Linked DNA regions of Homo sapiens: region 2 is linked to region 1. Evidence: fine-mapped expression QTL. A gene starts in region 1. The other region holds a variant in brackets. All regions are shown on one strand. Distances are from middle to middle. Region 1 holds the start of FDXACB1 (ferredoxin-fold anticodon binding domain containing 1). Region 2 overlaps ALG9 (ALG9 alpha-1,2-mannosyltransferase).

What was found. PIP is the estimated chance that this variant, and not a neighbour inherited with it, causes the effect. A credible set is the group of variants that fine-mapping cannot tell apart.
Region 2: its variant is the best candidate, but not a certain one, in a credible set for the expression of FDXACB1 in whole blood (TOPMed, PIP 0.53).

The regions. Positions count from the first base shown.
Region 1 is chr11:111,876,294-111,881,674 of GRCh38, forward strand. It overlaps FDXACB1 (ferredoxin-fold anticodon binding domain containing 1), which reads right to left and starts at 2,872. Exons shown (of 5, transcript NM_138378.3): 1 at 2,668-2,872; 2 at 2,263-2,419; 3 at 515-718; 4 at 188-346. The coding sequence starts at 2,839. CFAP68 (cilia and flagella associated protein 68) reads left to right here and starts at 3,248. Exons shown (of 4, transcript NM_022761.3): 1 at 3,248-3,312. The coding sequence starts at 3,268. RefSeq lists enhancers at 2,540-3,159, 2,656-3,125.
Region 2 is chr11:111,844,960-111,850,340 of GRCh38, forward strand. The region is part of intron 8 of ALG9 (ALG9 alpha-1,2-mannosyltransferase); the gene reads right to left. Among named protein-coding and RNA genes, the nearest start is that of ALG9, 24 kb to the right of the region's middle. The variant G/A (reference allele first, on the strand shown) is at 1,945.

The DNA.
Region 1 (5,381 bases):
CCTACAATATATCAGAAAATGTGACCATTTATAATTCTAGAGATGCTTAAGGAGGCCAGGCTGACAAATAAACATAGCACCAACATCACTAACAATTTATGCACCATCCATTCAATATATGGTTGCCATCAAGACAATCAGGATACAACTGGAGATGGAAGTGATTTCCAGCAAAATAACTGGTTACCTGTTCAACTTTCCTACAAGTGCTTCTGGTTCTGGAAAGGAAAACCACTGGTTACCCAGTTTGATCCTGAAGATTCTGGGTTGAGAACCTTCAAAAGGTAAGCTCCTGGTGAAGATATGGTTCAAAGCACCTTCTACATGAAAGGACTTATCTTGACTCCTGGCAAAATAGACACCAATATGAAGTCTGTCATTATTAAAATAAGCAAGTATTTTTAGAGACCGAATCAATTAATTGGCAGGGCCTATTGAGTCTGTCTATGAGATTTTGTTATCATTAGTGAGAGAGATGAAAACGCAGAAGGCTTAAACCTATGCTATTACCTACCTATATCCAGTGCACTTGTACCCTGCCACAGCCTTACAGCTGAATGGATACACGTCGCTTAAAATGAGCCCCCCCAGGGCTGCCATGGCAACCACTTGCCAACTGTTGTGCCATTCTCTCTGGGGCTTATCCGCAGGAGTTCCACCTTGTCCTCTACATAATGCCACGTGGACTTCTCCTTCCTCTGCAAGAACGTCTGCACAGCTAATAGGGAGAAAAGAAACACTAACTAATTATCATAAACAAGCAGAAATTACCACAGGAGTTGGCAACATACACATGGTTTGCCTGTGAAATAATTAAAATCCAATCATACCTATGTGCAAAAATCTATTAGACCTCAAAAAATGCAAAGAAAGTAGCTGGAAGTAAATAGAAGCATAAATTAAATGTTCAACCCACTCACTGATAAGATTGGCTGACCAGGGTCTGCTTTGCATTTGTGTCATTCATGCATATGTCACAGAAAGATCAATATCTGCACAGTTCCTATATATGATTCATTGCTTAGGCTGTTTCTTCCCATTTAGAAAGTTCTTTTCACTGCCCTCCTGAAATTCAAATACTAGTTTAAAATACCACCTCTGTCAAAACTTTATTGACAGCTATGCCCCATCGGACACCTCCAATAGTATCATGTCTTGTGGTATAATCATGTAAAGCACTGTTTTCAGTTCACAATAATTTTATGAGGCTGTTAGTTACTTTTTTTTTTTTTTTTTTTTTTGAGATGGAGTCTTGCTCTGTCGCCCAGGCTGGAGTGCAGTGGCACGATCTCAGCTCACTGCAACCTCCACCTCCCAAGTTCAAGCGATTCTCCTGCCTCAGCCTCCCAAGTACCTGGGACTACAGGCACGTGCCAGCACGGCCAGCTAATTTTTATATTTTTAGTAGAGGCGGGGTTTTGCCACTTTGGCCAGGCTGGTCTCAAACTCCTGACCTCAGGTGATCTGCTCACCTCGGCCTCCCAAACTGCTGGGATTACAGGCATGAGCCACCACGCCTGGCCCAGTTAGTTACTATTAATATCCCTAGTTTACAGTTGAGGAAACGGAAGCATGTAAAGATTAAGTAAGCTTGCTTAAAATAACAACTGTTGGCCGGGCGTGGTGGCTCATGCCTGTAATCCCAGCACTTTAGGAGGCCAAGGCAGGCGGATCACAAGGTCAGGAGATCGACACCATCCTGGCTAACACGGTGAAACCCCATCTCTACTAAAAATACAAAAAATTAGCTGGGCGTGGTGGCGGGCGCCTGTACTCCCAGCTACTTGGGAGGCTGAGGCAGGAGAATGGCGTGAACCCAGTAGGCGGAGCTTGCAGTGAGCCGAGATTGCACCACACCACTGCACTCCAGCCTGGGCGACAGGGCGAGACTCTGTCTCAAAAAATAAAAATAAATAAAAATAAAAAAATAACAACTGTTAAGTGGTGGGCTGGGATTTGAATCCAGGCAGTCTGGCTTCTAAGTGCACGTTCTTAGCCATTAGACTATATGGCTCTCATTATTTTGCACTGTCAAAAATAAATGATCCTCTTTTACACACCCAAGAGTACATTATTTGTACTTTCATTTAGCATTTAGGGTTTATATATCTGTCTTTCCAACTAAACTTGGGGTTCCTTTGGGGCTTTATAGTCTCTTCTAAACATATCATAGTAGCTTGCACGTGTGCCTTATGTTTGGGTACAGTAACTATGTTATGGACATCTTAAACATTTTCCTTGTGAGGGCGCTCCTTTCCTCACCTTTGGAAAAATTTGGCAAGCAGTTCCCTGTTCTTAGCTACGCCAGCTTTGCGTCCACAATGCGGGAAGATGAAATAAATTTGATCAAATTCTCTCTCGTGCAGTTCAAAGACATCTGCCAGCTGGGTGCAGTCCACACCGAAACGTACATCGATACCTGGCAAAGATAGTTTGGGGGCGCAAAATATAGACAGGAGGATGCCTCAAGACATGGAACAGAAAAACTCTTCCTAACTTAAACCGTGCAGACCAGCCCAAGTCTGGGCACAAAGCCGGCTTTATGTGAATATCCGTGGGACGATCAAGAACAATCTCCACGTGGGTTACATCCCCACGCCCCCACCCTTTCCACTTTGGGACGCGCCGGCCGCTGGGCGGGGTTTCGCAGAGGGGCGGGCTCGCTACCTCGCTCGCGCAGGCACTGCAGATTCTCCCAGGCCAGTGGATCCCGAGCCAACTCGGCCGGGCGCTGGAGGCAGGTGGCGGTAAGTTGAGTGCTCTGATCCAGGGTTTCGCTCAGAGCGGCGGCGAAGGAGAAATTCCCCTCCCCAACCAACAGGAGGCGCCGAGGGGCCATGGCCTCCACGGACTCCCGGCTCGCGTTCTCTGTGGCGCTCGTTTTACGTCACTTCCTTCACGGATCTCTCTCCGCCCCGTCTTCTCCCGTCACTAGTTGATGACGCACCCATGGCGCCTGGTTGTCTAGACGAGCCGGTGTACCGACTCCCCGGTGGATGATAACTATGAGTGCAAAAGCAAGACGCGCACTTTCCTGTCACCTCGCCCTTTCACCCCCTCGGGAAGATCAAAGTGTCTTTAGCCCAAGCATGGCCTTGAGCGACTTCATCACACCTGCATGAGGTCACAAGCAGTCACTAGCGCAGGGGGGTGAGGCGAGTTCTGGGTGAAAGAAACGGGGCGGGGCTGAGGCCAAGGAAGAGGTTGGACTGTGTCTCGCATGCTCCTGACGCAGAAGGTTTTGAACCTTTTTTCACCTCGTCTGAAATGGCTGCCTCCCAGTGTCTCTGCTGCTCAAAATTTCTCTTCCAGGTGCTTAAATCTCCTATCTTCTATTCGTTCAAGAAAGAGTATTGAGTGTCTATTGCGTGCCAGGCCACTGTGAGGGTGGTTACGATATGTGGATGAACAAAATGTGGCCTATGATTTCAATGAGCCTGCAGTCTGGTGGGGAATGCACAGAGCAAAACAGGCAACTCTGATATGGCAGGGTGTGTGCTCTGGGAGCACACAGAAGAACGTTACCAAGTTTGGGGGCGAAGAGGGTCAGAGAGTCCTTGGATGAAGTAAACCCGAGTTGAAAGCTAACAGGGTAAAAGTGCATCTTAACTGAGTCAAGAGGCGTGAAGAGGCAGAAGGAACAATATATGCAAAAGCTTGATGGAGAAACAGAATAGTTGAGTTTGGCTGAAACACAATTGGAGGGAGAGTAACAGATGAGACTGAAGAGTTAGGCAGGGGCCAGGTCATAGGGAGCGTTGTAAGCCTTTAAAAAAAATCAACTTTTATTTTACAAATGGGGGTACAGGTACAGGTTTGTTACGTGGATATATTGCACCCAGGTAGGTTGCAGGTTTGCTACATGGGTATATTGCACCTAATAGTTTTTCAACCCACACCACCCGCCCTCCCCACTCTAGTTAGTAGCCTGGAGTGTGTGTTGTTTCCATGTTTAGGTCCATGTTTGCTCAATGTTTAGCTCCCACTTATAAGTGAGAATGTCAGAGGTATTTATACCAGAGCAACTCCGTCTTGAATAGGGGCTAGGTAAATAAGGCTAAGACCTGGGCTGCATTCCCAGTAAGTTAAGGCATTCTTAGTCACAGGATGAGATAGCTCAGCACAAGATACAGGTCATAAAGACCTTGCTGATAAAACGGGTTGCAGTAAAGAAGCCAGCTAAAATCCACCAAAACCGAGATGGTGATGAGAGTGATCTCTGGTCATCCTCATTGCTACACTCCCACCAGCGCCATGACAGTTTACAAATGCCATGGCAAAGTCAGGAAGTTACCGTATATGGTCTAAAAAGTGGAGGTATGAATTAATCCACCCCTTGTTTAGTATATAATCAACAACCATAAAAATGGGCAACCAGCTGCCCTCAGGGTTGCTCTGCATATGGAGTAGCCATTCTTTATTCCTTTACTTTCTTAATAAACTTCCTTATGCTTTATAGACTCACCTTGAATTATTTCTTGTGTCTCTTGGGGTCTGGATCAGGACCCCTTCCGGTAACAAGAACATGCTGTATTTGGTTCTCTGTTCTGTTGTAAGCCATTTTAACAGACTGAATCTTACTCTGAAAACGGTGGAAAGCCACTGAAAGATTTTAAATAAGAAGATGATACAATTATACTTTCACTTTGAAAAATTCTCCTTTCCTGTGGAGAAAGGTTTGGAGAGGAACAAGGCTGATGGCATGGCAGGATAAAACAAGAGGCAACTGCAATAATGGAGACAAAGCTGACAGTGATTTGAATTGAAATTTGGCAATGGGAATGGAGGGTGGCAGTCTGATTCAAAAATCAACAAGACTTAGTGACTGGATGAAAATTAAAGACAAGTCAGAGTCAAAGATAAGCCCCAGGCTTCTGGCTTGGACAACTGAGTGGATGGTGATGTCTGTCATTCCAGCCCTAGAGACAGTTACACCTAGATCTCCAGTATGAGTACCAGGCCCATTGGACTTTGTGGCACCAGCTACTCTGGTCATCATGTTGTTTGGTAACATCAGTGCATGCATCTGTCTTCACAAAGGCAGATGGTATGAGGGTAGTTACCTGGGATGTCATCCTTCAATGCTGCATTATTGGCTTTGTTTCTGCCTGTGGAAAGGCAAGTGGGTGGTGACTCCCAAATCATGGCCACTTGCCCATGGTAATCTGGGTGATTCTTTCTTTGCTTGGAGAACTGGGAAAGCCAGGTTTGTTGACATCTTTAAAGAACATGGAACAGCCAAGTAAGGATTTCTGTGACTCTCATAAGAAATCTTCAAAGAGCTCAACCTACTCAGCATCAAGTTACTCTTCTTCAGGAAAGGTATCATCTTCCTAAGTCAGGGGGCCAGACTCACATTTTGGGGAAAAAGAAAGATTGAG
Region 2 (5,381 bases), 31 kb before region 1:
TGTATTTTCTATACTGACCACTATATCTAGCCCAAATTGCTATGCCCCAATGGAACTAATACTTTTGAGAAGCACCAAATAATTTAAATCGCTTTAGAGCCACATAGGGCTAAAATAATAAAACTGCCATTTCAATTTAACTATTCTCTCAAGATCGCGCAGACCAAAGGAAAGAGTGATAAAAAAACTTAGTTGGTGGCTGGGTGTGGTGGCTCATGCCTGTAATCCCAGCTACTAGGAAGGCTGAGATGGGAGGATTGCTTGAGCCCAGGAGGTTAAGGCTGCAGTGGGCTGTGGTCGTGCCGCTGCACTCCAGCCTGGGCGACACAGTGAGACCCTGTCTCAAATAAAAATAAAAATAAGGAACTTAGTTTGAGCTATTCAGGCATCTCCCATTTTGTTTTCATCTGCTTGTCCCATTTACATTCTAGCATCTTTCCCCTTGATATGCTCAACCACTTATAGTCGCGTACATTGGGCAACATGTGTTTGGTATAAAGCAACAACCCGTTTTTCTTAGATCATGTTCAGAGGCCCAGGCCTTGCTGAGAAGCTTTAAGGATTCAGAATGAAGCAAAATCACTAAAAACACAAGTCTTACTCACACTATTTTTTATTCTTTAACTCAAAATCCTTACACCCAAATGATGAGAAACAGACCCCCTCTGCACATTTAGCAGGTTTTTCATCTGCTTTTCCCCTCTGTATGATTACTTCAATCAAGAAGTGAATGACACATGCGGGTTTTAATCACTGTGTGTTGTGACACCCGCCTTGCACCATAGCAATTTCCTGCAATCAGCATTGCTTAAAAGGGTAATCAGAAGGCAGAGGAATAGTCAGAAAAACCTGACATTCTTGCAGCTTGCACAGCAAAATAAGATTAGAAACCAAACCCATAATGCTAGAAACATTTAGGGGAGAAGTAAGAGGGAGGGAGGTTACACTAAGGAAAAGTTCAAGTTCAACTGTGCGTCACCTTTGGGGGAAGCTCACTCCTTCCTGTCTCAATACAATGATAGAGAATATTCATGAACAGAGGTCCTATTCCAGGCCCAGTTCATTAGGGACATTTTAATCTTGTATTCTTTACAAATATGCATTTGGGTTATAGAAAACTAACGGATGGTTTTATTTTCAAATCAAAAATGTCTTTTCTGAATCTTAATTAGAATTTAACAACATTATTTTTTAAACTGAGTCCTTTAGGATCCAATTTCCAGAGAGGTAAGCTTTTGCACAATCCTCTCCTGACCACCAGTGCGGAAGCAGGGCTAGCAACCTCTGACTCACCTTTTTCTTAACAGGATTCTGGAAATCTGAGCTTGTGAAGAAAAACCATAGAGTGACCAGACAGAAAAGGGGTTATCCTTTCTATTATCTATTACAGATGTCAAGCACCAATAGGAAAAAGCCACTTGTCTCTTTCATATTTGCAAATACAGACTGTTTTTTTCAGGAAAGCACTTTAGCTTCCAGAAAATATTTGTCTCTAACACAATTTACTATACCCTCCTGTTACAGCTATCTTTTTATCTAGGTATACTGTACTCTGAGATGAGGAAACAAAAGTATTAAGCTGGTAAATGCAATCATTTTTATGTATTCAGAGCTCATAAATCAAGTTTCCAACTAGGCTGTGAACATTTCATAACAGACTGTTATTTCCCTGAAAGATGGGGCAAAAATTGGGGGATAAGCCAAAAGTGAAGAAGGTTCAAGTGTCAACAGTCTTAAAAACAAGGGCAAAAGGGAACAAAAAGAGTGACTTCTATCAGCCAGAGTCCTCCCCTGCTTGATGACACATCTGCCTTAGGAAAGCAAAGGGTATAAACTTTTATCTCTTTTCAGGGAGATATTCAATGCTGCTGCTCAGAAAACATCAGAGCTGAACTATGCAAAAAACCATGTCAGAATGACAAGCTAAACGCTGAACTGGTGCAA[G/A]ATGTTTAGGTGAAGGAAAGCTGGCAGCAGGGTCTCTGCAGGGAGTGACTCACCCATCCTCCTCTTTATGGAAAGTGCCTCAAGTCCTTTCAATCAAATGAGCTAAGGGAAGCTTTCAAAGAAGCTAAAAGAAGGGATAATGTTTACTGCTCCATAGATTGAATGAAGGAGAACTACTTCCCAAAGTTATAATTTTATAGACCTGTAGGAACTAAATCATAGTAAGACATCCTTATAAATGTCAAATTTGTACCACCGAGAGGGAAAAGCCACTAAGTTCAAGAGAAATGATTAACAAAAGAGCAAAGGCTCTAGAACAGTTCTGGCTGGCAGTGAATTCTAAGCAGGACTGATAAGACCCCACTGGGGCTTCTTCCTCTGCCACTGCAATTATGGAAACCTGTGGGCCTCCCAACAGAGGGCATTTGCGGGTATCGTCTGAAACTTTCCATCCAGTGATCAGACAGATGTTGATAAAACACATAAACAGGCAATGGGATCCTGTCCTAAGCTGCAAAGTGGCAACCTGAGCAGATTCACTGTTCTTTCTGAGGCAAGAGTATTTCCTGTAAGTGTATTCCCATGCCTTCTCCAGGCCTGTGCACTCCTCAGCAGAGAGCACCACTCTTCACTCACCAGACAAAAATACTTGCCAGCATCAACATCTGAGAACTTGAAATGTTATGAGGGGCAAAATCAGTGACAAGACCAATCACTTTCTTTTCTGCAACACTAAATTTCGCCTCTTGATCTCTGACCCCACAGAGACATTTTGCCTAAGACTTCACAATTCTAGTCTATCCTATTCTAAATTTTCTAAGTGCCAAATGTTCTTTACCTTATCCAAACACTCCTTCTTTCTTCAACAAAAGGGTCTGGTACAGCGCTCCCATGTAAAAGGAGAACTTGCCAGTGTGCACGTCACTCTGCCACTCAAGCTCGCTAGGGGCTCCTGATCACTTTCCAAACCAAAATGCACAAACCTTCAAAGGTATAATTTTCCACCTATTCTATAGATTGGATCCTATCTTCTCCCACCCTCAACTCATGCTCTCTGCTTTAGTAAGCTTATTCTCTGGTAAAGTCTCAGTAGCCAAACTCCAGGGTTTTGCTAAGGGTCTTGTTTTCAGTGCAAAGAACACGGGCTTTGAAGTCAGACAACACTAGACTCTTATCCCACTTTTGCTACTTTTTTAACTATGTGGCATATTCCCCACCATCTCAACCTCAGTTTCTTCATCCAGGAATACAAATAAATAAGGCCTGTCTCAGAGTGTTTTGAGTGAAAAAAGATGGTATGTGAATAACTTCTGACACACAGTAGGCATTCAATAATCAGAAGATATTGTAATTAATATCTTTCAAAATGTACTCCCTTTATTTTCCCCAGCTTCAAATGAAAGGTGTCAGCTCAAGTCTAGAATGTCTCACTAATACATGCTACCTAGCCAGGAAAGTGTAGAAAGGTCCCTTTGAAAACCAGGAACAGTTCGTGACCAGCTTGACCAACATGGAGAAACCCCATCTCTACTAAAAATTAGCTGGGTGTGGTGGTGCATGCCTGTAATCCCAGCTACTCAGGAGGCTGAGGCAAGAGAATTGCTTGAATCCAGGAGGCAGAGGTTGCGGGGAGTCGAGGTCACCCCACTGCACTCCAGCCTGGGCAACAAGAGCAAAACTCCATCTCAAAAAAAAAAAAAAAAAAGAAAACCAGGAACAATAGAAAGGGTAAACATTTATATGATTATAACCACAATGGAGTGATTGAAATCATCTTGCTCATGTCTGAATAGTTTCTACCTAAAATCCAACCAATGCTGTAAAAATAAGTTTTTATAAAGAACTCAATATTCAATCTTTTTGCTTCAGCAGTCCCTATATTTGACATTCCATTTGTCAGAAATGTACCCCTCTTGCATTTACTAAGGACACTCCTACTCTTCCTTCCAGGCTCAGCTCAAGAGCCGCACCTTTCTTGACACCACCAGAAGGACATGCTCCTATGATTCCCTATCTTTCCCCTGTAGCACATAAAACACTGTCCTGTAATTATCTATTTGTGTGTCTGCAGCCTAATTAGACAGTAAGTACTATGATGAAACAAGATTAATGCTCAAAAGCAATTTATTCAATGTTTCTTTCTTTCTTTCTTTCTTTTTTTTTTTGAGACAGGGTCTCCCTCTGTCGCCCAGGCTGGAGTGCAGTCGTGCAGTTTCGGCTCACTGCAAGCTCTGCCTCCCGAGTTCAAGCAATTCTCGTGCCTCAGCCTCCTGAGTAGCTAGGATTAAAGGCATGCACCACCACGCCCAGCTAATTTTTGTATTTTTAGTAGAGATGGGGTTTCACCATGTCGGCCAGGCTGGTCTCGAACTCCTGGCCTCAAGTGATCCACTCACCTCGGCCTCCCAAAGTGCTGGGATTACAGGCGTGAGCCACCACACCTGACCTTCAATGTTTCTTTAACTGAAGCCCATTTGTCCATCCAGTCAAGAAATATTAATAGGCTTAGTATGTTCTTACACATGAGAAATAGCACTAAGAGATGTATGCAAAAACTATCTTTTTTCCTGTTTTTAAATTGTTTTAAGTTCTGGGGTACATGTGCAGGATGTGCAGGTTTGTTACATAGGTAAACTTGAGCCATGGTGGTTTGCTGCACAGATCAACCCATCACCTAGATATTAAGCCCAGCATGCATTAGCTATTATCCTGATGCTCTCTCCCTCCCTCCGCCCCCTCCACAGGCCCCAGTGTATGTTGCTCCCCTCCCTGTGTCCATGTGTTCTCATCGTTCAGCTCCCATTTATAAGTGAGAAGATGTGGTGTTTGGTTTTCTGCTCCTGTGTTAGTTTGCTGAGGATAATGGCTTTCAGTTCCATCCATGTCCCTGCAAAGGACATTATCTTGTTCCTTTTTATGGCTGCATAGTATTCTATGGTGTATACAGCACAATGCATTTTTAATTTTCAGATAAGAAACTGTGTGCTTAACATAGCTAATGAGGCACCTGGAGCAGGAGACTCTTGTAAAACAGCCAAAACAATGCCAAATAGTGCCCAACATGTAATAAAGTGAAAGAGCTAGCATTTCCAATACAAAAGACATGCTATCTCGCTGTCTGACAATTTTACTGCCTCAAAACATCTAGTAAAATACAAGTCTTTTATGTATACTGAATGGCCTCACCAATTATAATAAAATTAGCTGACAATCATGAAGTACTTTTTGATTTAAAAGGTATTTTATTTCTATCTATTATAGTATTATTATTTGGTATCACGAAAATCTCAAGCTAGCACCACAACAGGTCTAACTAAAGTGATTCTATGATACAACTGTAAATGACACACTAATGTAACCCAATGGATACCCCAGAATTTATCCATTCATTGATTCTTGACAGATCTTTCCTGTAAGTCTGGAATATACAAGGAATT